4 linked regions of the Homo sapiens genome follow. The protein of the gene in region 2 purifies or fractionates together with the protein of the main gene of each other region. This does not show direct contact. Each region holds a gene or a part of one and is shown on either strand. Other genes may lie near its edges. The genes, in order: PCNX3, LRRTM1, LRP11 and ATP13A1.

Region 1 (7,022 bases), on a different chromosome or scaffold from region 2:
GACAGCGAGAGGCAGCAGCGGCCCATGCCACACAAACCTTCAGGGCAATAAAGACGGTGCTGGCGCTGATGGCGAAGGTGAGCACGGCGATCACCACACACATCACCAGGTCGGAGTGCAAGACCTCACGCTGCAGGGCCAGGAGAGACATTCAGCTGCCCGGCCAGGAGAGACACTCAGCTGCCCAGCAGCCCAAGCTGGACATGCCCCTCCCAGGAACCCCAGGACCTGTCACCACCTCCCCACAGACCCCCACCCCCCGCCCCCTCACCACCGACTGGCGCATCTTGTCCGGCAAGGGGTCCGGGGGCTCGGCCCGGGCTGTCTCCAAGCTGCGCTCCTCCAGCTCAGGGAACAGCTTGCTCCGGATCAGAGACCTGGGGGTGAGGAAGAGTCAGGAGGAGGCCGCCCCTCCTTCCCCCCGGCCCCAGTCACGGGCACATGCACAGACCACAAACCCCTACTGGGCAGACACAAACACACGACCCGGAGCACACCCACCAGAGCACGGTGGGGTCGCTGCTCTGCCGGCTCAGGTGGTAGGACAGTGCCACCAGGAGGCCACAGAAGACTGAGAAGAGGACAGGGACGTGCTGCTCTGGCCACGGAGTCTGCGGAGAGAATCCATGCTGGTCAGGGGAGGTGAGGTAAGCATGGGGCCCGGGCTGCCCCCGTGTGAGAAGCCACTGCTGAGCCCAGTTCACAGCCCCGCCCCAACCACCCTTACGCACTGCAGCATGCCCCCACCTCGCAAGCCACCCCTACCTTGATGGCCCCAAGGCAGAAACCGTAGAGCAGGGCAGCAGCCAGCAGGCTGCGGGAGAGGCTGAAGACTGCCGTGAGCGGGCTGGTGGCAGCTGTGTGGAAGGGAGAAGTACAGCCCAGCTCTCACTTGCAGGTACCCCACCTCAACCCTAGCCGCGCTTCCCCTCAACTCCCAGAGGCTGGCCTCCCTGGAAAGGCACCCCCAGCCCATTGTTCTCTGCTGCCCCAAGCCCCAAGCGGCCTTTAGAGCTTCCAAGATTCTCAGATATAAACCACTTGCCTGGGGAGGGAAGGAGAGGGGAGAAGGCAGAAACCTTGAGTCTGCAGTACAGACGCAGGAGAAGGTTCCGCAAGGGTGGAGCCAAGGACCCAATCCGAGGGCCCTCCTGGGCCTCCACACGGGCCCCATCCCTGAGCCACCTGTGGGCATCATACCTGTGCCCCCGAAGCCGTGCATATCTATTTGCTCCAGCAGGTACATGAGGCAGGTGTTGACCTGGGGCAGGAGGCCCAGGAGGAAGACGAAGGGGAAGCACAGGGTGAACACTGGCAGGGAGGGGACACGAAGGCCTGGTCAGCCTGCTGGCTTTCCGCGGCCCACCCTCGGGGACTCACTCTCCTGGGCCACCTCATCCCTGCCCCAGCCTCACCAGTGGCCACGTCTCGGGCACAGAAGAAGAAGGAGGCAGAGAAGAGCGTGAGGCCGTAGAGGGAGACAGGTGGGAAGGGCTGAGCTGAGCCCAGGGCGTCCAGCAGCCAGATGAGCAGACAGCAGATGCAGAAGTAGACAGGACGGCTGTACGCGATCACCCAGTTGTGGCCCTGAGGGGTCAGCCCATGAGGAGCTGGGTCTCCCCGACTGGCCACACCTCTGACACATGCACACACTCAAGGGCCCCAGGCCTGGCCCTGGGTCCAAGCTGGAGAGCCTGGCCAGGTGGGGGTGATGGGGGTGGTGAGGGAGCCCCAGCCCTCCATACCCTACCCTCCTCCCCACCTGGTCTCAGCCCCTCCCGGGGCCTCCTGGCCAGAGGCGCTGCTCCATGGGTACTCACGTGCATGGGGGACGCCGCATCAGGCTGCACGCTCTGGAAGAGACAGGGCTACGTTGGCAACTAGAGCCGATGCCCACGGGATGGTCAGAGGCCCCAGACCTGTTCAGCTCCACCACTAGGCAGTTATGAGTGACCAGGTCAGGCCCCCGAACTGTCCTGAGCCTCAGTTTTCTTGCTTGTAAAAGAGCTGGCCAGCTCTAGGGAACCTTAGACAAATTATCTACCTTTCAGCTTATACTCCTTAAAACTGGAGTTGTGGGAAGGGCAATCTTGGGAAAAGTCGGGTGGGGAAGGAAACACAGAGAGCCCGGCCTGACCTTCAGCAAGGAGTACTGGCAGGAGGCGATGACCAGGCAGAACTGGAAGACCCAGATGTCAGTGAAGAAGCCCTTGAGCAGCAGCAGGTAGCCCAGGAAGGCCACAAGGCTGCTCAGGCCCACGCCGAAGATGTTCTCCAGCACTCCCCGCGTCCTGCAGGGACAGCCTAGTCAGGGCGTGCCCGTCTTGCCTCACCTTCCAGTGGGGCAGTGGGGAAGATGGATCTTGCCCTAAAGGCCCAGCTCTGGGACTGTGCCCATGCCAGACCCTTGTCCTCTGAAGATGTGAACACCTATAACTTTGCGACGACGCGGCCCGGCAGCACCTGCTCCAGCGACCATTGTATTGCTCTCTCCTTCCCAATCTTTGCCTGCTCTGGACATTGAGGGCTGAGAGCTCAGGGTGCCATTACTCCCGGGATTCATCCATCCCCAGCTGAGACTGAGTTAACTGCACGTGGCTACATCGTGCATGCTGCCTTGGGCGTGCCACGCTATGCACACAGGACCAGCACCCAGTCCCTGTGCCTAGAGAAACCCAGATGGACGGGAAGCCACATGGGCTCTAGGCCCAAGTTCTCTACACTGGGTAGAAGTCATCTGACTTCTCTATTGGATTTTCTGGGACTCTGTGTCCCCTCTGAGAAATGGGAAAAGTGAGATAACTGGTCTGTGAGCTTTTCTAGGTTACAGCACTCGATTTTCAAATCAACAGAAGCTAATAAAAAAAAAGTGAATAGGATGGCCGGGCGCGGTAGCTCACGCCTGTAATCCCAGCACTTTGGGAGGCCGAGGCGGGCAGATCACAAGGTCAGGAGATCAAGACCATCTTGGCTAACACTGTGAAACCCCATCTCTACTAAAAAAAAAAAAATACAAAAATTAGCCAGGTGTGGTGGCGGGCACCTGTAGTCCCAGCTACTCAGGAGGCTGAGGCAGGAGAATGGCGTGAACCTGGGAGGCGGAGCTTGCAGTGAGCCGAGATCATGCCACTGCACTCCAGCCTGGACGACAGAGAGAGACTCCGTCTCAAAAAAAGTTTTTTTCAGCAGGACTTTGGAATAAACAGATTTAATACAGCACCACCCACTTGGCCACCCCTTTACACCACAAATGAACCATAGAAACCACCACTGCAGACTCCAGCCAACGACAGGCCCTCAGCTTCCCCCGAGTCAGGCTCTCTGCTGCCATGACTGCCTCCACAGGTACAGAGTCTGGGGAGCCAAGGTCCAGGGGCTTTCCAAGAATTGGGGGCCAAGGCTGCGGGACACTCACCGGTCCAGCAGAGCCAGCAGGGCAAGCCGCTCATAGCGCACAGAGGTCCAGCGGCCAGGGAGAAGCCAGTACTTGTAACTATGCTGGGCCCGGGGTGGCGCTTCTTCCATCAGTGTCTGCTCCTGGGATTCGTGCAGGGAGTCCTGGTCCAGCAGGTCAAACTGCAGTCCCCACAGCCGCGGCCGTCAGCCCCGCCACCCCCCACATGGTCTACTGTTACCCCCCTTCAGCACACCGGTCTGGTTGACCATTTCCATCAGCACATAAAGGCCCCTGTCTAGCGGCCCTGGACCCCACCAGAACCCTTCATCTGAAAGGGCTCCTCCTCTCTCCAGGTTCCCAGGACGTCGCCCAGTGGCTGCAGGGGCTGCCTAGAGTCACCCGCTCCCACGCCTGTCTTCCCCAGTCAGGCAAACTCTCCCACCTCTTCTGAAGCTCAAGGAAGTCCACTTGTCCTTTGGGACCTGGCACAAATGCTACCCTCCTCCCAGACAGGGCCTGTCACTGTCACTCTGACTACCCCATCCGAGCGTGCATGCAGGGCTCAGCCTTGAGGACATGCCTAGGTGCCAATGCCAGCCCTGAGGCCCTGGGCACATGACTTGACCTCTCATTTGTTGTATCCTTCACTCAACAAGCACTTGTGGGGCCCCAGCTATGGGCCCGGCCCTGCCCTGGGATCCAAGGATAAAATGGCGAGCCAGAGGCACGCAACCCTTCCCTCTGGAGGCGGCCGCCGGCCACGCTTCCACCCCACATGGTTACAAGGAAGAAATGAACCAGAAGCGGGCAGGTGGGAGCTTCTGGGGGCTGCCCAACCTATCTGTGGCCTTGAGGGTCAGGTGCCGGGTACCCTTTTATGATCATTCTTTAAGCTCTAAGATGGCGTTTCACGCATTTTTAGCGCTTCTGGTGTTAATAGATTAAGTATACAAATTTACTGTCCAAACTGTGATATTCTTAAGAGTGACAGAGCGCTGGTAATGAGTATACTGAGACAGGAAGTGTTAACAGAGAGCACCCCAGCAGCCACACGTGCACAGTGTATGCAGGGCAGCACAGTCATCACAGGGTCCCTGCTTGCTAACAGAACACTGCCACTTCCGCAAGTATCATCATTAACACCCATGGCCCCTGTTCACTGTGGGACCCTCCAGAGTTAGGAATGTACTCCAAAGGAATTCGTAGTAAGCAAATAAATGACTTCTCCAGCCATTCAGACCCAGAGTCTCTGCCAACATCAAAGATCAGGACAGACACAGTAGGGCCCCTGGAGCGCTCACTCAGCACTGCCCGTCCCTCCTGGGGCACCTGGGCAAGCTCTCTATGCAGGCCGGACTCAGTGATCTGCCCGCCCCGTCACGCCCCACTGGCACGGCCCTTCCCCGGCTGCTCCTCACCTCCGGGATCTCCAGGGGCACCCGGCGCACCTGCATGCCCTGCAGAACCACAGGCCTCGGCTGCAGCAGGTTCAGGCCGCCTGTAGCCTCAGGGACATCAGCCGAGTGGAAGCTGGAGGAATGCGAGTGTCGGTCCCTGTGAGAACAGCAGCCATCAGGATCCCCCCACGGGCGAGCCCTGGGGCTGGGTGGGGTCGAGGCCGAGGCCAAGGCCAGGCAGGTAGGGCTGTCTGTGCCGAGACCAACCAGGGCTCAAGGGACAAGTGCTGGGGTCAGGTGGCAGAAGTGCCTCCCTCCCAGACCCTGGCACGAGTGTCGAGGCTGTGCCCTGGGCTTCCTAGAAACTTCCTGCCCGGAGTGTCATGGAGCCAGGGACCCCAGGAGGTCTGTCCTTTGCTGCTCCCCATCCTCTCCCTGCAGATCTGAGCTGCCCCTGCCCAAGCCCAGCAGGAAGAGAGCAAACTCCAGGCTCAGGGAACTTCCCAGAGATGCAGGCCACCAAGACAATGGCTTGGGAGGCCAGGCTTGGGAACTCACCAGGCTCCATTAGCTGTCTGCTCCCCTTGCTGCCCTACAGGGTTCTCGTAGCCGCCTCCAGCCAGGCCAAAGGTGTAGGAACGCCGCACACCTGGGGCAGGGTATGGGAGATGAGGCAGCGTGGCAGAGACAGAAGCACCAAGGCCCGGCTCACGTGGGCACCAGACCCATCAAATGAGGCAGAACCTTGTGCTGTGTCCTCTGAGAGGGCAGCCCAGCCTCTGGAGAGGAAAGGGCCTACAGGTCAAGAGCCTGGGCGCGGCAGTCACCTGTCCTAGCTTTAGATCTCCCCTGTACTGTAAGCTGAGCCTCTGTTTCCTCATCAGCAGAGCAAAAGATGACAGAGACACCGTGCCTCAAAGAGGCTGCAAGGATGATGTCTGGCAGCATTAGCAGTGTACCTGCCACAGGGCCGAGCGAGCACCACTGCTAGGAGGACTCAGGCTGTTGGGGGAAGGCGGGGAGGCACTGGGCCACCGGGCTTGGGAAAGGCTCACCGCTCTCATCGTAGAAATAGTGCACAGCACCCTCAGAAGTGTCATCAAAGGTGCAGGCCTCATGCACATTGGCACCGGCCCGGGTGAGCAACAGTGAAGAGGCGAAATGCAGCGCAGAGGGCAGCGTCAGCGCCCGGGAGTGGGAGGCAGCCCGGCCCCGCTGAGCTTCCTGCAGGCTGCTGGAGAGGGTCAGCCCCAGGTCAGCGCCAGCTAGAGCTTGCGGGCCCTCCCCGGCCCCCGGTGCCCCTCGGCACAGCTGGCAAGGTGCTCACCTGGGCGGCGAGCCCATGACAGAGGCTGGAGGGGTGGGGTTGCTGCCTGCATTGTGGCGTCTCCGAATGGCCTGGGTCCGCCTCACACTGCTTGAGCGGTCCCGCCTGCCAGTCTCCTCGGCCGCTGCCCAGAGAGAGGCCCCCAAGTGTAAGTGACAGATGCTCAGACAAGGCTGGGGGAGTAAGGTTGGGGACGGTGTTCCGCCAGGGAGCTAAAGGCCTAGTACAACCACGCCCCGGCTCTGAGGCCCAGCCAGGTCACACAGCCCCATGCTCAGTTTCCTTACTTGCAAACAAGGATGACACTGATCGGCCCTGCCCCACCCCACTGGTGGTGGGAGGATGAGTGTGGATGATGAGAGTCCTCAGGGGACAGAGACTCAGGTGCTAATCAAGGATGTGGAGCCAGGTGGCTGAGCCCCATGTCTAAGAGGTTTGGCAGACAATGTCAATCACCACCAGGCCCACGTCCATCTGCTGCCTACAACCGAGGCTGAGCTGACACTGACCAGGTCCATTCTTACCTGCCCTTTGCCCAACCCCAAGCCCGTAGCTCACGTCCCCCAGCCCCTGCCTCTAGAGCAAGCACTCACCTCCCCCCACAGCACCTTCCTCCTGCAGCTCCCCCCGCCAGCCGGGCTGGTTGGCAGCGGGTCCCCTTCGCGCCTCAGCAGGCAGCACAACAGGCTCACTAGCAGCCTGCTCCACCCCAACCTGGGCCTCCAGCTCTGCCTTGCAGCCAGCCAGTGGGGGCCTCAGAACATCACCCCCAGCCCCATCCATGCTCAGCACACGGGCATGTGTTTTAGCGCTGGCGGTACTAGGCGTCCGCTGGGTCCCATATGGCCGCTTGGGGGGCACAGCAGTTCCCTCCTCAGCCCCATGGGGGGCCCTCCGCTTC
Region 2 (7,395 bases):
AATTGAATCTGACTACGTTGCTCCTGGATTTTCCTTCTGGCCCCTGGACAACTCCCTCCCCACCCACCAAGGAAATTTTAACTGTTGCTTTTCTTGTAACACAGGTAACAATTCATTTAGGTTACACCAGTCTGTAAAAACTGTAAATGCTATTTTATTTTAAACATTTTAGTTTACAAAAAAAAAAAAAATCAATGATTGGTACCTTTTTTACACTCTCAGATTCCTGAATATGGACAGATCTTCAAAGGGAGGAAGGAGTTCTCATATGAAATTTAAGATAGACTGTCCTGAAGGTTGTGGGGTGGGGTTTTTTGTTGTGTTTTAATTCGCTTTTGTTTTTAAGACACAATAAAGCTAAAATGTCAAGTCTCTGGGAGAGATCCCCTTAAAGTTTCAGTCAAGGAGCATATCAGAGCACAGACAAGGAGACCCCAGCCTGGTGCCCGCCGGCCCGTCCCGGCTGCCCAGGCGTATTTGGTAGCGCATGGGTTGAGAGCCACTGGGACAATCACACCTCGCATTCCCTCGCGGGCTGCTGGTGGCAGGTACACGAGCCATACTCGTTGATGATCACCAGGGCTCCCTCAATGTGGTTCGGTTTGTAATCAACGTAGTATTCCTGGGCAGACATGGCAGCCATCTGATGCATGGTCTGTTTCTGCTTTTGCTTCCTGCGCTGCGTGACAAAGCACTGTCTGAGCTGCCTGAGGCTGGCTGGGAAACACTTCCAGGACACGTAGAGCACCAGGACCACGATGAGGAAGGAGAAGATGAGGGCCATGGTGCCCGTGACCACCTTGTGGATCTGCACGGCGTTCTCGGCGTGCTCGCCGCCTGGAAGAGCCACGGTGGCAGGCTCGAATGTGCCGTCGTGCTGCCCCTCCCCGCCGTCCGCGAGCGTGGTGGCCGAGCTGGCAGGGGGCCCCAGATCACTGCGGTTGGTGACGGCCGAGAGCAGGTGGCCGCTGGTGGGCTCGGCCCCATCCTCGCACAGGTGGAAGGCGTACACGGCGTCCAGGACGTCCTCGCCCTGTGCGTACTCCGGGCTGGCGCACTGCAAGTTGCCATCGTAGCGCCCCTGGAAGTTGTTGAGCCACGAGGCTAGGGCACACACGTTGCGCCCGCAATCCCACAGGTTCCCGGCCAGGGTGATGCTTGTCAGGGACTTCCAAGAGTTGAGGATCCGGGGCTCGATGTAGGTGAGGCGGTTGGAGTCCAGCTGCAGGGACTGCAGGTGCGGCACGGTCTCGAACACATGGGGCTCCATGTACTCGATCTCGTTGCCCGACAAGTCCATTTTCTCCAGGTTCCAAACCCAGTCCAGCGAGCTGACCACAATGGCCACCTTGTTCCTCCGCAGGCAGAGCGAGTGCAGGGAGATGAGGCGCGGGAAGTGGGCGAAGTTCACCTTGACCAAGTCGTTGTGCTCGAGGTGCAGCTCGGTGAGCTTAAACAAGCCGGCGAAAGAGTTGCGCGCCAGACTCTTGAGCTGATTGTATCCGATGTCGAGAAACTTGAGGCTGCGGCAGTCCTGGAAGATGCGCACGGGCACAAACTGGATGGCGTTGGCCCGCATATGCAGCGTGGTGAGCTTCCGCAGCCCGTGGAAGAGGTCGGGCGCGAGCGCCTGCAGCTTGTTGTACGAGAGGTCCACGCTGCGCAGGTTGGGCATGGGCCGGAAGGTGGTGTTGGGCAGTTGGGTGATCTGGTTGGAACTCAGCGTGAGTTCCTTAACTCGGCGCAGTTTCTGAAAGGCGTCCCCCTGCACGGAGCAGATGTGATTGTGATCCAGATAGAGCCACGTGAGCTGCATTAACCCCGTGAACTGGCCGGCGCGCAGCTCCGAGAGGCTGTTGTAGCGCAGGGACAAGCCCAGCAGGCCGGACAGGTTGTGGGGCGCCTCGGTGAGGTTGAGCGCCTCGCAGTACAGCAGCCGCCCCTCGCACCGGCACAGCTGCGGGCACCCGCTGGGGGCGGCGGGCAGCATCTGAAAGCAGGCCCCCAGCAGACACAAGACCACCCCCGAGGGCCTCCTCAGCAGCCAGTATAGACAGAGACCGAGCAGCAGGAAATCCATTAGCGAGAATCTTTCCAGAGAGACTGGAGAATGTCCATTGGAAGCGCTCGGTCAGAAATCTACATCATATTTTATTCCGAGGGAGGGGAAGCGGGGGAGGGGGAGAAAAGGGCAAAAAATCAAATAAATACATAGAAATAAAGAAGGACCCCCCTCCCCAAAAACCACACGTTCACCTCTAAGCATGCAGAAAGCTGGGCAGCATAGAAAGTTCACAGCCACGGAAAGATCAAAGAGATGGTGATTTGGTCCATGTTAGATGCTGCAGCAAAGAAAAGGGAGGAAAAAAAAAATCTTCGGGAAAGAATTTAATTAAAAAGTGTCTTACCCACCCTTTTCCAGAGAGTGACAACCTCCATTCAGCTGCTCCCTTTGTGTGCAGGCTAATTATATGCAGGGCGAGAGAAGACCCCTCTGTGTTTCCGAGGCAGCCCCGGTCCGCGGCCGGCGGATCTGGCAGGCGCACAATGTCTCACTTTGCTGCTCGGCTCGGGGCTGCAAGGGCGGCCGGCAAGGCGGGGAGGCGACTTCTAGGACCCGCAAGTTTCCCAACTACGTGCCGGAGCCCGAGCTTCGCCTTCCTGCCGCCTTCCTTTCCCTCTGCAGTTCGGACTGTGACGTTGTGGGGGGAAAAAACTCCAAACTCGGGGCTCGCGACTCCCCAGGATCTGACAGTCTGGTTAATGTCCGTCATTGGAAACGACCACTGACCGGCGCCACCTTTTACTCCGCGGAAACAGCCTGCCATTCGCGCCCCGGGCAGCTGCAGAGAGCGGGCTCACTCATGCTTTGCGGGCGGCGGGCGGCGGGCGGCGGGCGGTGGGGAGGTGCGGACGGCGGCGCGGGGAGCGGCGAGCGGCGCCCGGGCTCCTTCCCTCCACCAGGCAGTGTGCGGCGCGAGCTTGCACAGGCACCTACTGCTCACTGAGTGTCGTAAGCTGCTCACGATTGTGCGTCTTCCCCGAGCACCTCAGACATGGGCAGATTGAAAAGGGGTGGGCATAAAACCAACATTTTACCGAACCACTAAAGTAATATATGTTTTTTGATGAAACGGAAAACACTTTCAGCTTTTTTGTCCATATTTCAAAAAAAAAAAAAAAAAAAAAAAGGAGGGGGGAGGGAGGTGGAGGTAGGGGTAGCATCATCCACGACAAGATATTTCCAAGTGGGAAACTGAAATGTTCTGTGCTCTCCCCCTTGCCTTTTGGGGATATATTCTTTTCCCCTTTAAAACTGTCTACGTGTAAGAGATACGTAGGAATCTGTAGAGAAATCAACGTTTGGACCTTTGCTTTAGAAAAGCAACTTGAGAGAAGACACAGGAAGGCAATGATTTGGGGCTTGGCTAAGATTTTTGGGGTTTTTTCCCCCTCTTGCGGGTACTGGAATTCTGCAGTCAGCCAGCCCTTTTTTGAGGTGGAGAGGGGAAATGCTTTCCAAACCCACCTAGTTTGGGAAGCCATCCAAGTCCCGGTGGTGTGAGATCCAGTGTGGCAAAAAGGTATGTCTGTGTGCAGGGAGACTTGACTGAGATCCCTCCGGGGCTTCATCAGGCTCCACAGATACATATGGGGTACAGAGTGGATTAAAGAACGATTGTACTGTCTGACATGGGGAGGGCTTACCCTGACTTGTGCTGTTCATGGTGATTACTGGGCCCTGCAGTGCACCCCACTCCAAGAGAGTGTGAATGTGTAGGGACGTGATAGTTTAAGCCATAATGAAGCCTACCCGTCTCCATACACACATCCTAATTAATCTTTGAGACTGCACTAAGTTGTGCCACTTTTTCCTCTGAGTATGACGAGAAGCCTTTGCCTCATTATTTCTATTCATAATCATTTATAGATAGGAGTCCTTACAATGAGCTCTCCCCCCACCTCCCCACACACACACCTTGTGCCTACTGGTCTGTAGAGGGTCTGCCCTGGGGAGGGTCAGTTGGTCATCTGTTTAAACAAAGTCCTCCAAGATGGCTGAGAAAGCCTGCGGGAAGTGAGTGTGGGCAAGCCTTCCTTCTTGACAAAGATGCCCAGGGAGATGGTAGGGAGAGTCAAATGTGAGTCTCCAGCTCCACTGTTTGAATTCCCATCGTTTCTGCCTCTAAGGAAGTCAAAATCAGTAGGCATTATATGTAGTGGCACTTACTTTGATAGGAATGAGGGTGGATTACCAGAGCCAGGGTAGATAGACTGGACAAGTAACTGGATTGGTCCTTAGCATCTAAGCTGAAGAGGCCAACCAATGGAATCAAAGTCACCAAAGACTGGTGGTACTTTTCAGGAAAAGTCATATGAACAGGGGCATGAATCATTCCATTTTGTATTCATCTGAGCTCTGCCCTGGTCATTCATCTCTGAGATGTATCATTTAATTGGAAGGAACACAAATCTGAAATGTCCTAGACATCACATGCTGTCTTAGGAGTTAGAAGAGACATTAGAAAATCAACCCCCTTAATTTTGCACGTGACTAAACTGAGGCCAAGAGACATCATGGTTTATCCAAGGTCATACAGCTTGCAACTGGCACAGATGGTTTTTTCTTTCTTTCTTTCTTTTCTTTTCTTTTCTTTTCTTTTCTTTCTTTCTTTCTTTCTTTCTTTCTTTCTTTCTTTCTTTCTTTCTTTCTCTCTCTCTCTTTCTTTCTTTCTTAATTTGCCATTCTTGATGATTGCCTCTCTGTCACTCTTGCTGCCTACCTAACTCTGGATCAGGCATTTGCATGTTTCATCCTGGCACCTCCAAGGTGCTGCGGAACACTTTAACAGACAGACAAACAAATTCACCATCAAGTGGTTTCACCTCTTGCCAAGACAATTATTCGTGACAGCAGGCCAGCTGATGGAGCCATAAACTCTAAAGGGTTGGGAGGTGGGGGAGGGGTGTTGAGGAGGCACCCGCAGGGTTAAACAGCGGCCAGCCATTCAGCGAGTACTGTGAGTACACACCACCCAATCCCTAGGGTTGCTAGGAAAAAAAAAAATCCTCCTAATGCTGGCTGCTTGGCAAAGTGGTGACAGAGGCTGCCAAATGGGCAAGAAGAGGTCCCACTTTGGATGTCACTTGATTTGTAGAGCTGGTGCAGAGAGGCAGAAGAGTTGAGTGTTGGCAAGAAAGAAAGGGAATAAAATTAAATTCACTGATTTATATGTGAGTTTTCTTCTAAGTGTGCTACTCAAAACTTACAAGATGCTCCTAGGCTGTAATTAAAATAAATAAATTATATATATATATTATATATAAATATATATTTTCTATATATTGCTTTTTGCATTATTATCCTGCAAATCATTTCATCTATATGGTATCTTTAAGCCTTTCCCACCTCTAATGTGGCAAGTTTGCATCTTTTCTACAGTTTTAAACCCCTTGGCAGAACCGTATACATTAACAGATTGAAATGAGCTTTATTGAAATTTAGCTATTCTAAGTCATCTAAGTTGCAGAATCCCAATTTATTATGTATTTAAAGCATACCAGCACTGATTAAATCAATGCAAATTAGGTTAAATAAGAACAACATGAATCGAGTGTTTCAGCAAAGTTGAATCGAGAAACGACAACTTTTGAGTCACCACAGCAAGTCGATATGGCTGTTTTTCATGAGTTTTAATTTCATGCCTGTAAGTGTCCAATGAACTAAAAAAGGAAAAAAAGAAAAAAAAAGCTCACCTGAAGTTTTTTTTCTTTCCTCCTGCTTATTCTCTCATATGTCTGTACCTGTCTTTTGAAAATATCTGATTCACCAGGTTACAATGTAGCTATTGCATGTACTGGATCAATCTCTTCTTCCCGGGTGACCATAGATTTCTGTTGGCAAACTTCTTCTTCAAATGTTGTATATTGGATAAGAGATGCTTTATATGCTTTGAAAATACCCTTGACATTTTCCATGTTTGTCAGGGGAAGGAACCTGAGCTCATCTAGCTGAACCGCTATAGCTGCAAGTCTAGTACTAATAGTTGGGCATCAAGAATACCATCCCAAGCCATCATGCCAACATGTGATTGGGCACTGAGGCCAGACCTCCAGTTTGGGGTAAGAAATGATAAGAATCTTGAAAATATGGATTCAGCAAATGGGAAGGAAGTCTGGGTTATATGAGTTATGAATCTGATGGCCAAACATAATCTGGAACTAAGGGGAGGTAGAAGAGAGAAGCTCATGGAGCAAATTCGTTGTAGTTAGAGAGGCCAGAAGTATAGCTTGACGGAGGGAAGAGTCGATTAATTCCTTCTCTCTTCAACCTTGTAAATTAGCCTTTGCCTAATGAGCCCTCCTGTTTTTCGTGGTACTCTATGTTGTGAAGTGGAGTGGGGGAGTAACATACAATTTTTTTTTTGGTATGTCATTACTTCTGTTTTATCTCAACACTTCCAATTTGTTCATTTTAGTCAAAATAATTTGTGAACACAGAGGTGCAAGTGCAGAAAGTCTGAAATGAATCTGCATTCTGGGGATTGGCTTTCCATTAGCAATCTTTGTCAATGTTCAAGGAAGGAAATTTGAGTGATTATTTTAATGTTCTGTCATCGCTAGCACCAGCCTGGACCTTGATCTTTATGCTGTTGTCTTTAATTTTCAGTGGCAGCGAACCATGGCTTTTCTTTAAAAGGAAACCTTTAGAAGAATTGGCGGAGAGTGGGAGTCACAATTTCAAAAAGAGAGAATTAACTTTGTTGTTTCTGTGGGCACATACCATACAGCTGGCATTTTACAGAATGCTCAAAAGGTGCATGGAGAGGCTGAGGGTGGGGGCCCCAAGGCTGCTCTCAGGAGATCCACTTAGGAGAAACAAATTAGAAATTGAGGTCATTCTACTTATCAAACTTTGTCCAACTCTTAAAGCAACGTGGTAACATGGATAGCAATAAGAAACTAACTGCCATGCTCTATGAATGATGTAAATGATGAGAATAAATAATAAAAGAAATAATAAATGAATTAATAATAATAAATAGAAATGCAAGTTCTCCTGGGCATGGTGACTCATGCCTGTAATCCCAGCACTTTGGGAGGCTGAGGTGGGCAGATCATCTGAGGTCAGGAGTTTGAGGCCAGCCTGGCCAACATGGTGAAACCTGTGAAACCCCCTCTCTACTAAAACTACAAAAATTAGCCAGGCGTGGTGGTGGGTGCCTGTAATCCCAGCTACTCAGGAGGCTGAGGCAGGAGAATCACTTGAACCTGGGAGGTGGAGGTTGCAGTGAGCCGAGATCACGCCACTGCATTCCAGCCTGGACAACAGAGTGAGACTCTGTCTCAGAAAAAGGAAAAAAGAAAAAAAAGAGAGAGAGAGAGAGAAAGAAA
Region 3 (7,022 bases), on a different chromosome or scaffold from region 2:
AGCACTTTGGGAGGCTGAGGTGGGAGGATCACTTGAGGTCAGGAGTTCAAGACCAGCCTGGGCAACTCTCACTACAAAAGAGTGAAAATAGGTGGGAAGGTTAGCACACACCTGCAGTCCTAACTACTCGGGAGGCTAAGGCAGGAGGATCACTTGAGCCCAGGAGTTGGAGGCTACAGTGAGTGAGCTATGATCGTGCACCAGCCTGGGTGATAGAGACCCTGTCTCAAAAGCAAAACAAAACAAAAACAAAGGTAAATACAGATTTATTTTGCTGTTGTAGTCATCTGAGCCTGCTGGCTTCTATTATAAAAATTAGTTATTAGAAACGGTGAACGTCTTCAATTTTCCTAGATGAAAAATTGGATTCCAGAGAATTTACATGCAGGCTTTATTTTGTATGGCTCTAAAAATTTGCCTTAACTTTTCAAACTTAATATATTTCCCATTCATTGAATACTTTATATCACTCCTATTTTTAAAACTTGAGGATAAGAAAAAAAGAAAATCCATATTAGAGGTGAATTTGGTGTTTTTCAGGTTTGTTTTAATAATCTTTTCAAGGCCAGGCGCAGTGGCTCACGCTGCTAATCCCAGCACTTTGAGAGGCCGAGGCAGATGGATCACCTGAGGCCAGGAGTTCGAGACCAGCCTGGCCAACATGGCAAAACCCTGTGTCTACTAAAAATACAAAAAACAATTAGCAGGATGTGGTGGCACACACATGTAATCCCAGCTACTCGGGCGGTTGAGGCAGAAGAACCGCTTGAACCCGGGAGGGAGAGGCTGCAGTGAGCCGAGGCTGCACCATTGCACTCCAGCCTGGGTGACAAGAGCAAAACTCCATCTCAAAATAATAATAATCTTTTAAAATAAATTTATTTAACAGTATTTTGAACTTAAGTGATTTTAAAATTAAGTGAAAAATCCACTCTAGAAAATAAAACTGCTTCTCCATATTTACACATTGGTGGGACCTCGTATGCTGCCTTGTACCCAAAATCGCTACCAGCCAACACTCCACACAGCCTCTTCTGCGCATATTATAGCTAAATTCCACGATCATAAAATAAATAGAAAAATAATTTCCATTTAATATGGATTCTCTTAGCAGTTATTTGCCGAATCATATCTATTCAGCAAACAAGATACCTCTCCATAAATTAGAAAAAATAAGAAATCATCTTTTATGAATTATTTATTTTCTTTCTCAGAAAAGGATGCGCCTCCACTTAGCAAGGCTGGGCAGGATGTGGTTCTGCATCTGCCCACAGACGGGGTGGTTCTAGACGGCCGCGAGAGCACAGATGACCACGCCATCGTCCAGTATGAGTGGGCACTGCTGCAGGGGGACCCGTCAGTGGACATGAAGGTAACGCATGTTGTCACTGCTAACAAAAACGAGTATTTCAGTGAAGTGGTCTTTTGTAATGTCCTGCCACTTCATGCTCCCTAAATGTCTGTACGCTAGCAGAAGGCATAAAATGGAGACTGTATAAAACTGATTATGCCAAAATGGTTTATTATCTCAATGTGCTTTTCTGCTGAGAGTGAGCAGCAATCTCGATCATTTGTCTTGGAGCCTACCCTCCTTCTAGCTGCTGTTTGTGACTTGTCTAGAGGACAAAGACACTTCAAGGAAGAAGGCTCATGCTTTGTTTTAATGACTCAGATTACTTTTTTAAAGTTCTATTTCTTTTTCTGAGCTCAAGATCCAGGTAGAAAATTTGAAACTACAAAGGAGTCTAAAGAGGACAATAACAATAGGATGAACTTATCCTTCACATGAGCCGGAAAGTAGACAGCTTACCTGGCAGCTAGGTCTGCTGGGGCACACCGAGCCTGTGAGGGAGGGAGGCCAGCATGCGGTGCTCCTGCCCGGGGCTCCTGCCCGGGGCTCCTGGGATAGCCGCCGATGGAAATCAGCCATGTGGCTGGTGGCTGCCTATGCTCAGGAAGTCTTGGGTGGTGAGACAAGTGGCTTTTTATTCACCCTCTCAGGGTGGATTCCTGGCTTAGGCAAATAAGCACTTCCTGGCTTAGGCAGATAAACTGCATCCAAACCACTTCAGTTAGAGGAAGTGGAGAAAGAGGGTGAGGTAAGGAGGCACTGATTTGTACTCTACTGGAACCAAAACAAAAACAAATCTGGAAGTCCCTCATCACTGGTTTAAGTAAGAGTGATTTTACTCCCTGATTATATTGCATTAGAATTGGACTCACCCTCGTCCAGTATGGTTTGCCTTTGTCCCCACCCAAAAATCTCATCTTGAATTGTAATCCCCATAATCTCCACGTGTCAAGGGAGAGACCAGGTGGAGGTTACTGAATTATGGAGGCAGTCACCCCCATGCTATTCTCATGATAGTGAGTGAGTTCTCGCAAGATCTGCTGGTTTTATAAGTATTTGGTTGTTTCTCCTGCCACCTTGTGAAGAAGGTGCCTTGCTTCCCCTTTGCCTTCTGCGGTGATTATACTAGTAAGTTTCCTGAGGCCTCCCCAGCCATGTGGAACTATGAGTCAATTAAACCTCTTTCCTTTGTAAATTACCCAGTTTCGGGCAGTTCTTTGTAGCAGTGTGAGAATGGACTAATACACCCAGCATCCTTCCCAGCCTCTCCTCCAAACAAGAGTGCCTTCCACAACACCCCTTCCAAGGCTCATCTGCCATCTGTCTGACTTTTCCAAGGGCAGAAGCTCACTACTTCACATCATGTCCATGACATTACTCATCACTGTGTTGGGCAAGCAGGCTACGCCTCCCCTTACTTCTGTGCATTGGTGTTGGGTCTTCCCTTTGGAAAAACACTGAACTCATCTTTTTATCCTGTGTAAAAGCTTTGGAAGTCTTTGAAAAAAAGAAAGAAAGAAAGAAAGAACATCACCAATTGGTATGCTGTTCTCAGAACTCAGCACCCCACAGTTTGTCAGATGTTCCTCATATGAATTGATTTTTCAGGCCCGCCACTATCCTGCCTTGTCTGGATTTTCTCATATTAATCCATACCCTTCTTAACATCTAATACCCCTAATTGAACCCCATATTTAAGCTTTGGTTTTCTGACTCATTCATTACCTACTGTGATCCAGATATTGCCTCTCCTTCTATTAATGAGCTTCGTTACATGAACTGTGTCAGTAGCTGCATCACACAGTGGGTTCGTGCTGCATTTTTCTTGCCTTCAAGAGGAAACTCTGAACCAGTTCCCAATCGTGTATAACAGTGACGGCAGGTAGACCTCAAGTTATGAAGCCATCATCTAAATGACAGGGCCTGTACTAGGGGAAACATCTGTTACCAATTTGTGACTGTCTTAGAATGATATACATTCATGAATGTCACCCAAAGTTAACACTCATCCTGCTGAGACTTCATCATAATCAAAGCCCCCACGGATTGAGCACCCACTGAGTGCCAGGCAGCTTAGAGAGATCTGTAATCCACTGGACACCCTCACTTGTAGGCACATCCCCATTTGGTGGATGAAGACTGTCAGGAAACATTGTGGAAGACTTTGAGGTGGGCAAAAGATTACTAAGTACCTTTCAATGGAATGCTGGGTTGGTTAGTGGATCCTTCAGGGTTAACATCTATAAGTTGCAGAAAACTGATAGTAACCAAATGATTCTTGTCCATAGAAATGCAAAAGAAAATTAGGTATATAGGGGTAATTGACTTTCACCCTAGAGAAAATAAGATTTCAAACATGACATTTTAGTACATGTAGATACTAACCGATCTATTAGTAGATTCATTTCAGTACTGATTAGCAAACCCATTTCAGTTTTGCATCTCCTAGCAACTTCTTTTTGGCATTCATGATTGCCTGTATATGTGTAGTCTTCAGATTCTTTAAATCAGTTGAACACCTTATTGGTTCCCTCTTTAACTAATGTCTTTGAAAAATATTCATATTATATTTGTGTGACAGTCATAGCTTTACTATTTTGAGAATTTTCCTTTAACAGTAATTAACCCTCAGGAGCTATGCCTCTGATCCCTTTAACTTGAGCAGCCTTATTTCACACCCCAACATTTCTGCCAGGAGAATTGGGCCTCTCAAATCAAATTCCTTTTTCTCTGAGAATGGCTTCCTGCTGACTGGAACACTGATGCACTCCGCCCTCAAGCTGCAAAATGGGGCTAAGTTTGAAGGTTGTTGAGAATAGAGGGAGGGCAGTCACACAGCAAAATAGTTAAGTTAAAACCTGTTATTGGATGCCCTTGTTCCTAAGTCCCTTGACTGTCCCTAGCACCCAAGAGTGTCCATTGATTGGGCTTTCCCCTGAGCGCCCATCTCCTCCTCTTCTTGAGCCATTCATCCCTCCTCTCATCTCCCCTGCTCTCCACCATCTGCACGGGCTCCTCACCCTTGCTGTCTGTTCTCAGGCAGAGTAGTGATCTCTCCCTTTGCCTCGTGATACTTTAAGATCAGCTTCTAGGGCCCATCTTTTCATGTCCAAGTGACCCAGACAGGTATTCAACCTGCAAGGAATTATGCTGTCAGATTAGTTATGAAACAATTAATAGTTAATTTTTAAGCATCTGGTATGTGTCCAGTACTGTACTAGGCACTAAGCATACAGGAAAGCTCATGTTCCTGACTTGTCTCATTCATTCGTTTATTCATTCATTCATTCATTGACAGGGTCTCTGTTGCCCAGGCTGGAGTGCAGTGAGTGGCACAATCATAGCTCACTGCAGCCTCAAGCAGTCCTCCCACCTCAGCCTACTGAGTAGCTGGGACTATAGTCATGGCTAATTTTTTTTTTAACTTTTTGTAGAGATGAGGTCTCACTATGCTGCCCAGGCTGATCTCAAACTCCTGGGCTCAAGCAATCCTCCCTCCTTGGCCTCCCAAAGTGTTGAAATTACAGGCATGAGCCACAGCACCTGATCTGTCTTTTTCATTTGTGAAGACAGAATGGATGATTGGTCAGAACCAAGAGGCTATCCACTGGATTTAAAGTTATATATTTTATGCCCTTGAACAGGATATTTTACATCCACTTAACTGAATATTTATAATACATCAAAATGCAAGATGACACATATTTTTCAGGCAACCCATTAAATGATGCTGACTTTCATGGTTATTAAACATAATACATTTAAATCTGAAGTCAGAATGTAAAATATGACATTTAGGAACATGATACAAAGTAGGACATTCAGGAGATTTGGAATTCATAAATCAGTATATTGATTTACATTCGTCAGTTGCTTAAAATTTTCTAAATGATTATCTTAGTCCATTTGGTCTGCTATAATAAAACACCATGACTGGGTGGCTTCTAAAGAGCAGAAATGAATTTCTTTCAGTTCTGGATGCTGGGAAGTCCAAAATCAAGGTACAATCAGCTTTGGCGTCTAGTGAGGACCCATTTCTTATTTTATAACCAGCCATCTTCTCACTGTGTCCTCATATGGCAACAGAGGCAAGGCAGCCCTCTGGGGCCTCTTTTATTTTATATTTAAACATATTTTAACTTTTAGGTTAAGGGGTACATGTGCAGGTTTGTTATATAGATAAACTTATGACTTAGGGGCTTGGTGTACAGATTATATCCTCACCTGGGTATTAAGCATATTACCCAGCAGTTTTGTTTTTTTTCTAAACCTCTCCCTCCTTCCATCCTCCACCCTCAAGTAGGTCCCAGCGTTGTGCTGTTCCCCTTTCTCTGTCCATGTGTTCTCATTTAGCTCCCACTTATAAGTGAGAACATGTGGTATTTGGTTTTCTGTTCTTGCATTAGTTTGCTGAGAATAAGGACCTCCAGCTGCATCCATGTTCCTACAAAGGACATGATCTTGTTGTTTTGTATGGCTGCATAGTATTCCATGGTGTATATGTACCACATATTCTTCATCCAGTCTACCGTTGATGGGCATTTAGGTTGATTCCATATCTTTGCTATTGTGAATAGCGCTGCAGTGAACGTATGCATGCATGTGTCTTTATAGTAGAACAGTTTGTATTCTTTGGGTATATACCTAGTAATGGGATTGCTGGGTCAAATGATAGTTCTGTTTTTAGTTATTTGAGGAATTGTCACACCACTTTCCACAGTACACCACTTTTCACAATGGGTGAACTAATTTGCACTCCCACCAGCAGTGTGTAAGTGTTCCCTTTGCTCCACAACCTCACCAGCATCTGGTGGGGTTTTTTTTGTTTTGTTTTGTTTTTTACTTTTTAATAACATGGGACCTCTTTTATAAGGGCACTAACCTCATTCATGAGCACGTATCTCCAAACGCCATCACACTGGGCGTTAGGTTTGAACATGTGACCTTGGGAGGGCACTCAGCCATTCAGTCTACAGCAGTGACTTCAGAAAACCACACGTAAGGAAGCTTGCTAAAGGATGGGCATTATTTAAACCAACAACTTCATTATTAAATTAAAACTAACTGCATCCTGGCCTACCTGCTGTACATAATTTTTTTAAATAGACAGGTATTACTAAGTCTTTGTAACCAAGTATATACAATGTGTGTGTGTGTGTGTGTGTGTGTGTGTGTGTGTGTGTGTGTGTGTGTGTGTGTAATTTAGTTTAGACATATATGAGAAGCCCAAACGTGTATTGCTAGCCACTGAATTCCTAGCTAGGAAGATGGGGTTGAGTCAGACAACAGGCTGAGTCATTCATTGATTTGGCCAGAAGCCAACCACCAAAGGCTGTTACTGCTGAACAGGGATCTTGAGCAGAGATTGGGAGCTCCTGGTTTATGATCATGTCTTTTTCCAAGTTACAAATTGGATATGTTGTGTGTACATATATAGATAGTTTTTTATCCTGATACTTGGAACATGTCTGTGAAACACTGTAAACCCTCTCTCCAGTGTCATCCTAATGGGAGAAAATGTATAGAAGGGTCACCTGGGCCCTTAAAGGGAAAGCATCCGTGTGACAGTTCTACATCTTCTAAATATCTGAATGCAGGAGAGACAGCTCTCGTTAGCTAAAAGAGCTAGGGAAGGGACATTCAATCTGGATAGATCTAAACTGGAGTGTGC
Region 4 (7,022 bases), on a different chromosome or scaffold from region 2:
GCTGGAGGCGGGGCAAGGAGGACAAAATCACAACCATTCAACCTGGCACTGTGGGACACAGGAGGTGACTCAGGGAGGAGCTGACGGGCCAGGCACATGGTGAAGGCAGGGGGAGCCTGGGCCCGTACCTGCTGGTGAGTGAGGTGTCCCAGCTCCTTGTACCCCAGCGCCAGGACGCGGGCTCCTTCCCGGGAGATCTCGGTGTGGATGTGGTGGTAGTCGGGCGGGCACTGGGAGAACTGCAGGGAATGCAGGGGGATGTCACGGGCTGCCCCGCGCCCCCACCCCTTGCCCCAGGCTGGGGCCAGCTCACCATGGAGTGCAGAGTTTCGGGGGCCCCCTTCACGGCCGCGATGTAGCAGAGGTCGGTGGAGCCCAGCTTCTCATACGAGGCAAGCACGGACATTCGCTTCAGGGCACTGGCAAAATGAAAGCGCTGGTGAATTTTCAGCCCCTGAGTTTTAATACTTCGGGGGAATACTTTCTCATCTGGAAACAAATAAGTACGAGTCCTGAGGGGCTTTGCTCCAAAGAGGCAGCCAAGCCCCTACCTCTCACCCCGGCCTCCCCCACCTCCCTCCTGCCTCCCCCAGGGCCTGATCGGGGCTCTGGGCTAGAGCAGGTGTTGGTCCAGAGCTGGAAGACCTGGGCTTGGAGGACCCTGGCACTGTGGCTTCGGCCAGGGCAGGGCAGATTCCAACCCAGAGGGACACCCAAGGACGTGGCCTATCCTGGGTCTAAAGTGAGCCTCTGGCCACCCACCTCGGGGAGCATCAGAGCTGTAGGCCTGCCTGTCCCCAAGATGCTCTGAGGGGTGCAGCCCACCTGCCTAGGGCTGTGAGAGCCAGTGGCTCCCCCTTGCTGGGCCTGAGGCCCCAGCCCCTCACCTTTGGTCAGCGTCCAGTCCACGGCCGTCAGCATGGCCTTCTCTAGAGGGTCACCCACGAGGGTGCCGTCGTCCAGCTGCATGAGCGAGTGGCACGAGGCCAGGGCCCGGTGTGTTTCTACAGGGATGCTGGACACTGGGGTCACCTCCTTCCCGTCTCTGCAAGGTCGGGGAACAGCTGGTTACAGAGTGCAGGCGGGTAGGGCGAAGCTGCATCCCCACCAGCAGAAGGACCCCCAAGGCCATTCATTCCGTGCTTGTCACTGGGGTGGCTTGGGCGCCAACTGGGTCTTTATGAGACCTGCACCTGCTTCACAGATGCCCCCAGAAGCCAGGCATTGTGCCTGGGGGTCATGTGGTGCATGGCTGGTGTGGGATGTTCCAGGCCTGAGCTGAGCCCCCGTGCCGCTACCATGGCTGACACCCAGGACTTTGTGGGGAGCCCCTGGAAATGAACCCGAGGCAGGGCCTCTGACGGGCCCTCACTGCAAGGGCTTGGGGTGGATGGGCCACCTGTCTCTCGACTTCCCAGAAACCCCATCTGGGTGACCTTTGCTGCAGGGCCCCTGATGCTTACCTCAGCCCGGCCACACCGCGCACCACCAGGCTGTCACTGGTCAACGTCCCCGTCTTGTCAAAGCAGCACACCTCGACCTTGCCAGCAAAGGGGATCCGGAAGGGCTCTGTGCAGTACATGTCTAGGGGCGGGAGTGAGGTCAGGGGTCCTGCTTGGCCCCAGCCCACTCGGCACCCCATCCCATTTGACACACTCACAGAGCTTGGCCAGGGCGATGAGGGAGGTGTTGACGGCCAGGGACAGCTCGATGGGCAGCTCAGGAGGCACGACCGAGGTGAGGATCAGGGTGCACTCCAGAAACAGCTTGTAGCGGTTCCGGCTGGGGTCCTTGGTACCTGTGGAGACAGGGCCTGCCAACCTGGAGCCTCGGAGGGTGGGCGCAGGGGACCACAGAGGCCGTGGCGCTTACCTTCAATCCATACATAGGCAGCTGCAGCGATGGCAAACACCAGGAGGAAGAGGATGAAGATGAAGGTCTCCAGGTTGTTCGCAGTCACCCTCTTGACCCCGAAGAGGATGGTGCGCAGCAGCTTGCCCTGGAGGAATGGAGGAACAGCCTTTCTGCTGTCTGGACTCCCTCCAGCAGCTCAGGCCTGGAAGCGTGGGCCTGGTCTTGGGGTGGCCTCTGCACCCTGGCCCAGGTCCAGGGCCGTGCTGCCAGAGTCAGCCCGTGGGGCAGATGTTCTGGGGTCGGAAAGGGCTGATACCTTGGCTGTCCAACTGCCCTGGGGCCCGCCCTCCCCAGACCTGGCCCCGCACCTGGGATGTGTTGAATCCGGTCCGCAGGACGTAGGCCACGCACCCGCTGTCAACCGCTGGGGAGAGAAGCAGAGTCACCGTCATGCCTGTCTCCTCGTCCTGACTCCCTCATGATCAAGCAGACGGGCAAAGGGGGTGGAAGCCCAGATACCCCCAGACGCCCATGAGGCACCTACGCTTCAGGCCCGTGGTGGCTTTCTGTGGGGGGATGTGCTGCACCACCTTGGTGCCCCCGAAGATGACGTGCAGCCGGGAATCAGCCTGGAGGTCCAGCACCCGGTCTGGGCTGAGGTCTTCGATGGGCTCCTGGGGAGGAAGATCGTGAATCTGGATGGCCAGGCCTACCTTGCTTCCTTCTCCATCTGAGTTCCTGGACAGCTGGACCTTGAGGCTGGAATGAGCCAGGGGGATCCCCACCCGACCAATACATCCCACCCAGCTCCCAGATCCTCACCCTCACCCCGTCCTGTCTTCTCCCCATTGCACTCACAGTGCCTGCTCTCTGGGGCCTGCACTTGGCCTCGTCTGGGACTCACCCCTCTGGACTGCTCCCAGCCCACCTTGGTCTGACATCCCAGGGCACCAATGTACCCTGGATGCCCTTGGCTCTCTCACCTCCTTCCTCGCCCCCACCACCCGGCTCCCCAGTCCACAGAGCTCATCTGTGCCCACACTGCCTCCTCCGCCTGTGCCTGAGGGGGATCCCCGCCACCCCCTGGGCCTCCACCTCCTGGCCTGTTTCCTCCTGAACAGCTTGAGGATCCCCATCCTCCACCAAGTACCTTCATCTGTGGCACGGACTCCCCCGTGAGCATGGCCTCGTCTACGATGCAGCGGCCTCGCAGCAGAAGCACGTCACATGGCACCAGGTTCTCCTGTGGGGAGCGGCCTGCAGGGCAGAGGCAGGAGGGTTGGCCAGAGGCCCTGAGGCTGGGGCTCCCACTGGGACTGAGCGGAACCCGGCCTCACCGATGGAGACGATGTCCCCTGGTACGATCTCATCACTGGCAATGGGCCTCCACTTGCGGCTTCGGTAGACCTGGGCGGGGCATGGGTGTCAGCACAGAAGCCGCACCTGTGCTGCACCCCCAACCTGGGTCTCCCTGGCAGCCACACCTGGATCATGTGGGGCTTGTTGCCCATCTTCCGGATCTCCGACATGTTCCGCATCTGCTGCTGCACCAGCGAGGCCTCGAACGCCACCAGCATGGATAGCGTAAAGACGCTGTAGTACCAGTACTCATCCAGGCACCAGAGCCCCACACAGAACACCTGTGGGATACCAGCCTGTCTGTCCTTGCCCTACCCGCCCTGTTCCCATGAGCCCCTTCCACCCACCGGATCTGATATGTGAGGGTGGGGAGAGGCTTCCAGGTTTAGAAGTGGTGGGCAGGCTTGATCCGGTTAGGAAAGCCCCAAGGGAGGAAATGGGGAGATGGGCCAGAGCTGCTGCTTTACCTGAAATACAAAGAAGGGGGCTGTGGCTCTCTCCTTGAAAAGCTCCGAGAAGTCAGGCACCACCATCTCGGCCCTGCAAGAGACCAGGCCCCATCCTGTTCCCAGGGCAAGGCCTCTGGGGTATGGAGTCTCCACCCTGACCCCTCCAACCTGAGCATGGCAGGCCGCTCTCAAGAAACCAAGAGCCATATGTGGGCGTCGGGAGCCCTGGCGAGCTTCCAGATAGGAGGATCCATTTGGCAGTGGCTCTCCCTCATCCTGGCTGAGCCTGGGGTAGACATGCTGCCCGCCCACAGCCCTCGGCTCTGCATAAAACAGATGAAGCTCCTTAATCTGCAATATGCTCTTCCTGGCAGCCTGGGGCTGGTGTCAGACGAGAGCCCGTCATCTGGTCGAGTGACACAGCAAGTAGAGAAGGAACCTCTGATTGAAAGATGGAGGCCCTGAAGCTACAGACAGCAGAAGACACTGAGACCCAGCCCCACCAAAGCTGAGATTTTCTATGATTCCTGAATTAAAGCCCCAGAATGGGTCGAGTAGGGTGGTTCACGCCTGTAATCCCAAGCACTTTGGGAGGCCGAGGCAGGAGGAGTGCTTGAGCCCAGGAGTCAGAGACTAGCCTGGGCAACACAGCAAGACCTTCTATTTACAAAAAATTTAAAAATTAGCTGGGGGTGGTGGTGTGTGCCTGTGGTCCCAGCTATTTGGGAGGCTGAGGCAGGATGAATGCTTGAGCCCAGGAGTTCAAGGCTACAGTGAGCCATGATCACACCACTGCACTCCAGCCTGGGTAACAGAGTAAGACCCTGTCTCCAAAAAAAAAAAAAAAAAAAAAAAAGGCTCGAGAATGCAAGGACTTGGGCCTAAGGGTGTGTTCTGCAGTACTCTGTGCCATAGTCCAATCTGATCAGGGCACCAGTCATGTCAACGAGGGTCATTCTCGCTCTGCCCTTTAACTGCATGGACGTCTTATGTATGGGATGTGAGAAGAGGAAACCAAAGAGCAACCCCACTGCTATCAAACAATAAGCCCTTCCCTTGTATCTTGCTGGGTACCTTTGCGTTGAGTAAGAACAGCATGAAAGGGAACGTAGTTGCCACAGGCCATTAATGTGACTGGCCAACCTTGGGGTAGGGGAAGTTGCTAAATGTTTCTTATAAATCCTTGTATTAGATTGATAGTTGTAGTCAACATATTTGTAATCTCTGAACAGTGATTAAGTCAGGAAAGAGCTCCCTAGGTGTTCTGTGGGTTTCTGGGTTGAGGACCATCGTAACAAGGCCATGATGGGGTTTGGAGCCCAGTTCTCCGGCTCCCAGCCACGTGTCAGCATTTGCAGTTTTGGTGAAGATGAAGGGAGAGGGTGTGCACCGCACATTGGCCATTGTACTCAGTACAAAAGGGCAGACATGGTCACGGTCTTCCATCACCATTCTGAAGCGCTGAGATGCGTAGACTCGAAACAGTGAGGACTGAAATGTTTAGGTTGGGTGCAGTGACTCATGCCTGTAATCCCAGCACTTTGGGATGTTGATTTAGGAGGACTGCTTGAGGCCAGGAGTTTGAGACAAGCCTGGGCAACACGGCGAGACCCCATCTCTACACAAATAAACATTTTAAAAGAATTTAAAATAAAGCTGTTGCTGAGGAGGGGCCACAGGCTAGACTCCTGTGAAGAACCTTACACTCAAGGTCTCACACCCCAGGGCACGGGCTTCCAGCTGCAGACCCTCTGGGGTTCCTGCCAGCAGGCAAGTTCAGGGGAGACTGGACTTAGAGCATGTTGCTCAAGCGGCATCACAGTCACCTGGGACATTTGGCTAAAAGGGCAGATTTGGCCGGGTGCAGTGGCTCACGCCTGTAATCCCAGCACTTTGGGAGGCCAACATGGGAGGATCACCTGAGGTCAGGAGTTCAAGACCAGCCTGGCCAACATGGTGAAACCCCCATCTCTACTAAAAATACAAAAATTAGCCAGGCGTGGTGGGGGGAGCCTGTATTCCCAGCTGCTTGGCAGGTTGAGGCAGGAGAATCACTTGAACCGGGGAGGCGGAGGTTGGGGTGAGCTGAGATCGCGTCACTGCACTCCAGCCTGGGTGACAGAGCGAGACTCAGTCTCAAAAATAAAAAATAAAATAAAAATAAAATAATAGTAAATAAATAAATAAAAGGGCAGATGCCTCTGTCCCGCTTCCTAGGCACCCTGAATCAGGAGGGGAGCAGGACAGAAAGGCAAAGGTGCTACAGGCAAATCAAGGACTCACTTGTTGCTCCCAAATTTCTTCTCAGCTGCTCGGATCTCTGAGTCTTCCTGGAAGCCTCTGTTGCTCTGATAGTATGAGAAGGCGTTTCCCACAGGAAAGGCCACGGGGAGAAACTGCTTCTTCTCCAGGGCATCGTAGGAATACTTGATCTTCTGGAATTCGAAGGACAGCACCTCAAGCCCGTCTTCGCCCTGCGGTAGAAGGTGTGTTTGCCACAGAGGCCCCTGACCTTGGGGTGTCAGCGCCTGGGAATCCTACTCAAGCCCCTCCTCCAGGAGCCCAGCAGGCAGTCCCTACCTCATTGCGGTGCAGGGCCACGAGCTCCGTGGAGCCATTGTTGGGGGTTGGCACCACCTTCACAAAGGTCGCTTTGCTGGGGTCGTACTCCTGACAGAGACAAAGAAAGCATTGTGGCTTAGCTCTTCTCAACCTACAGTTCCAAGACCCCCCCGGGAGGTTTTGGGTGCAGCAGCTCTATGGGTATATTCTGAAATGCCACTGGGCTCTGGTGCTGCCTCTGTCACTCCCTCGTCTGTCATCAGGACAAACGAGACCATCTTGCTGTGCCTCTGGTGCCACACTTAAAGCTGGGAGCACAAGGCTGGGCACGGTGACTCACACCCATAATCCCAGCACTTTGGGAGGCCAAGGTGGGCGGATCACTTGAGATCAGGAGTTTGAGATCAGCCTCGCCAATGTGGCGAAACCCTGTCTCAACTAAAAATACACAAATGAGCCGGACACGGTGGTGCACACCTGTAATACCAGCTACTTAGGAGGCTGAGGCAGGAGAATCCCTTGAACTGGGAGGCGGAGGTTGCAGTGAACTGAGATTGCAACACTGCACTCCAGCCTGGGTGGCAGAGTGAGATCCTATCTCAATTAAAAAAAAAAAAACAAAAAACCAGCCAGGCACAGTGGCTCGCACCTGTAATCCCAGCACTTTGGGAGGCCGAGGTGGGCAGATCACGACGTCAGGAGATTGAGACCATCCTGGCTAACACGGTGAAACCCCATCTCTACTAAAAACACAAAAAATTAGCTGGGCGTGGTGGCAGGCATCTGTAGTCCCAGCTA

What was found.
Region 1: the proteins of LRRTM1 (region 2) and PCNX3 purify together in Homo sapiens (affinity purification with mass spectrometry; 2 studies listed by BioGRID and IntAct, with this or other methods). This does not show direct contact.
Region 3: the proteins of LRRTM1 (region 2) and LRP11 purify together in Homo sapiens (affinity purification with mass spectrometry; 2 studies listed by BioGRID and IntAct, with this or other methods). This does not show direct contact.
Region 4: the proteins of LRRTM1 (region 2) and ATP13A1 purify together in Homo sapiens (co-immunoprecipitation; 3 studies listed by BioGRID and IntAct, with this or other methods). This does not show direct contact.

Annotation. Positions count from the first base shown.
Region 1 is NC_000011.10:65,618,760-65,625,781, reverse strand, and holds part of PCNX3 (pecanex-like protein 3), read right to left. Parts: coding exon 6,715-7,022; intron 6,246-6,714; coding exon 6,122-6,245; intron 6,029-6,121; coding exon 5,850-6,028; intron 5,444-5,849; coding exon 5,353-5,443; intron 4,952-5,352; coding exon 4,816-4,951; intron 3,577-4,815; coding exon of another isoform or gene 3,538-3,576; coding exon 3,416-3,537; intron 2,292-3,415; coding exon 2,138-2,291; intron 1,854-2,137; coding exon 1,821-1,853; intron 1,588-1,820; coding exon 1,416-1,587; intron 1,312-1,415; coding exon 1,201-1,311; intron 858-1,200; coding exon 766-857; intron 612-765; coding exon 502-611; intron 378-501; coding exon 272-377; intron 156-271; coding exon of another isoform or gene 131-155; coding exon 38-130; intron 1-37.
Region 2 is NC_000002.12:80,301,740-80,309,134, forward strand, and holds LRRTM1 (leucine-rich repeat transmembrane neuronal protein 1 precursor), read right to left. Parts: upstream 3,014-7,395; 5' UTR 2,413-3,013; exon of another isoform or gene 2,257-2,412; intron 2,140-2,256; 5' UTR 2,081-2,139; coding exon 512-2,080; 3' UTR 139-511; downstream 1-138. UniProt on the Homo sapiens protein: Exhibits strong synaptogenic activity, restricted to excitatory presynaptic differentiation, acting at both pre- and postsynaptic level.
Region 3 is NC_000006.12:149,847,353-149,854,374, reverse strand, and holds part of LRP11 (low-density lipoprotein receptor-related protein 11 isoform 1 precursor), read left to right. Parts: intron 1-1,183; exon of another isoform or gene 1,184-1,214; coding exon 1,215-1,372; exon of another isoform or gene 1,373-1,391; intron 1,392-1,810; exon of another isoform or gene 1,811-1,961; intron 1,962-7,022.
Region 4 is NC_000019.10:19,653,656-19,660,677, forward strand, and holds part of ATP13A1 (endoplasmic reticulum transmembrane helix translocase), read right to left. Parts: intron 6,333-7,022; coding exon 6,243-6,332; intron 6,137-6,242; coding exon 5,946-6,136; intron 3,754-5,945; coding exon 3,681-3,753; intron 3,495-3,680; coding exon 3,339-3,494; intron 3,262-3,338; coding exon 3,192-3,261; intron 3,112-3,191; coding exon 3,005-3,111; intron 2,529-3,004; coding exon 2,399-2,528; intron 2,279-2,398; coding exon 2,223-2,278; intron 2,000-2,222; coding exon 1,873-1,999; intron 1,799-1,872; coding exon 1,661-1,798; intron 1,585-1,660; coding exon 1,464-1,584; intron 1,046-1,463; coding exon 888-1,045; intron 490-887; coding exon 314-489; intron 240-313; coding exon 129-239; intron 1-128. UniProt on the Homo sapiens protein: Endoplasmic reticulum translocase required to remove mitochondrial transmembrane proteins mistargeted to the endoplasmic reticulum.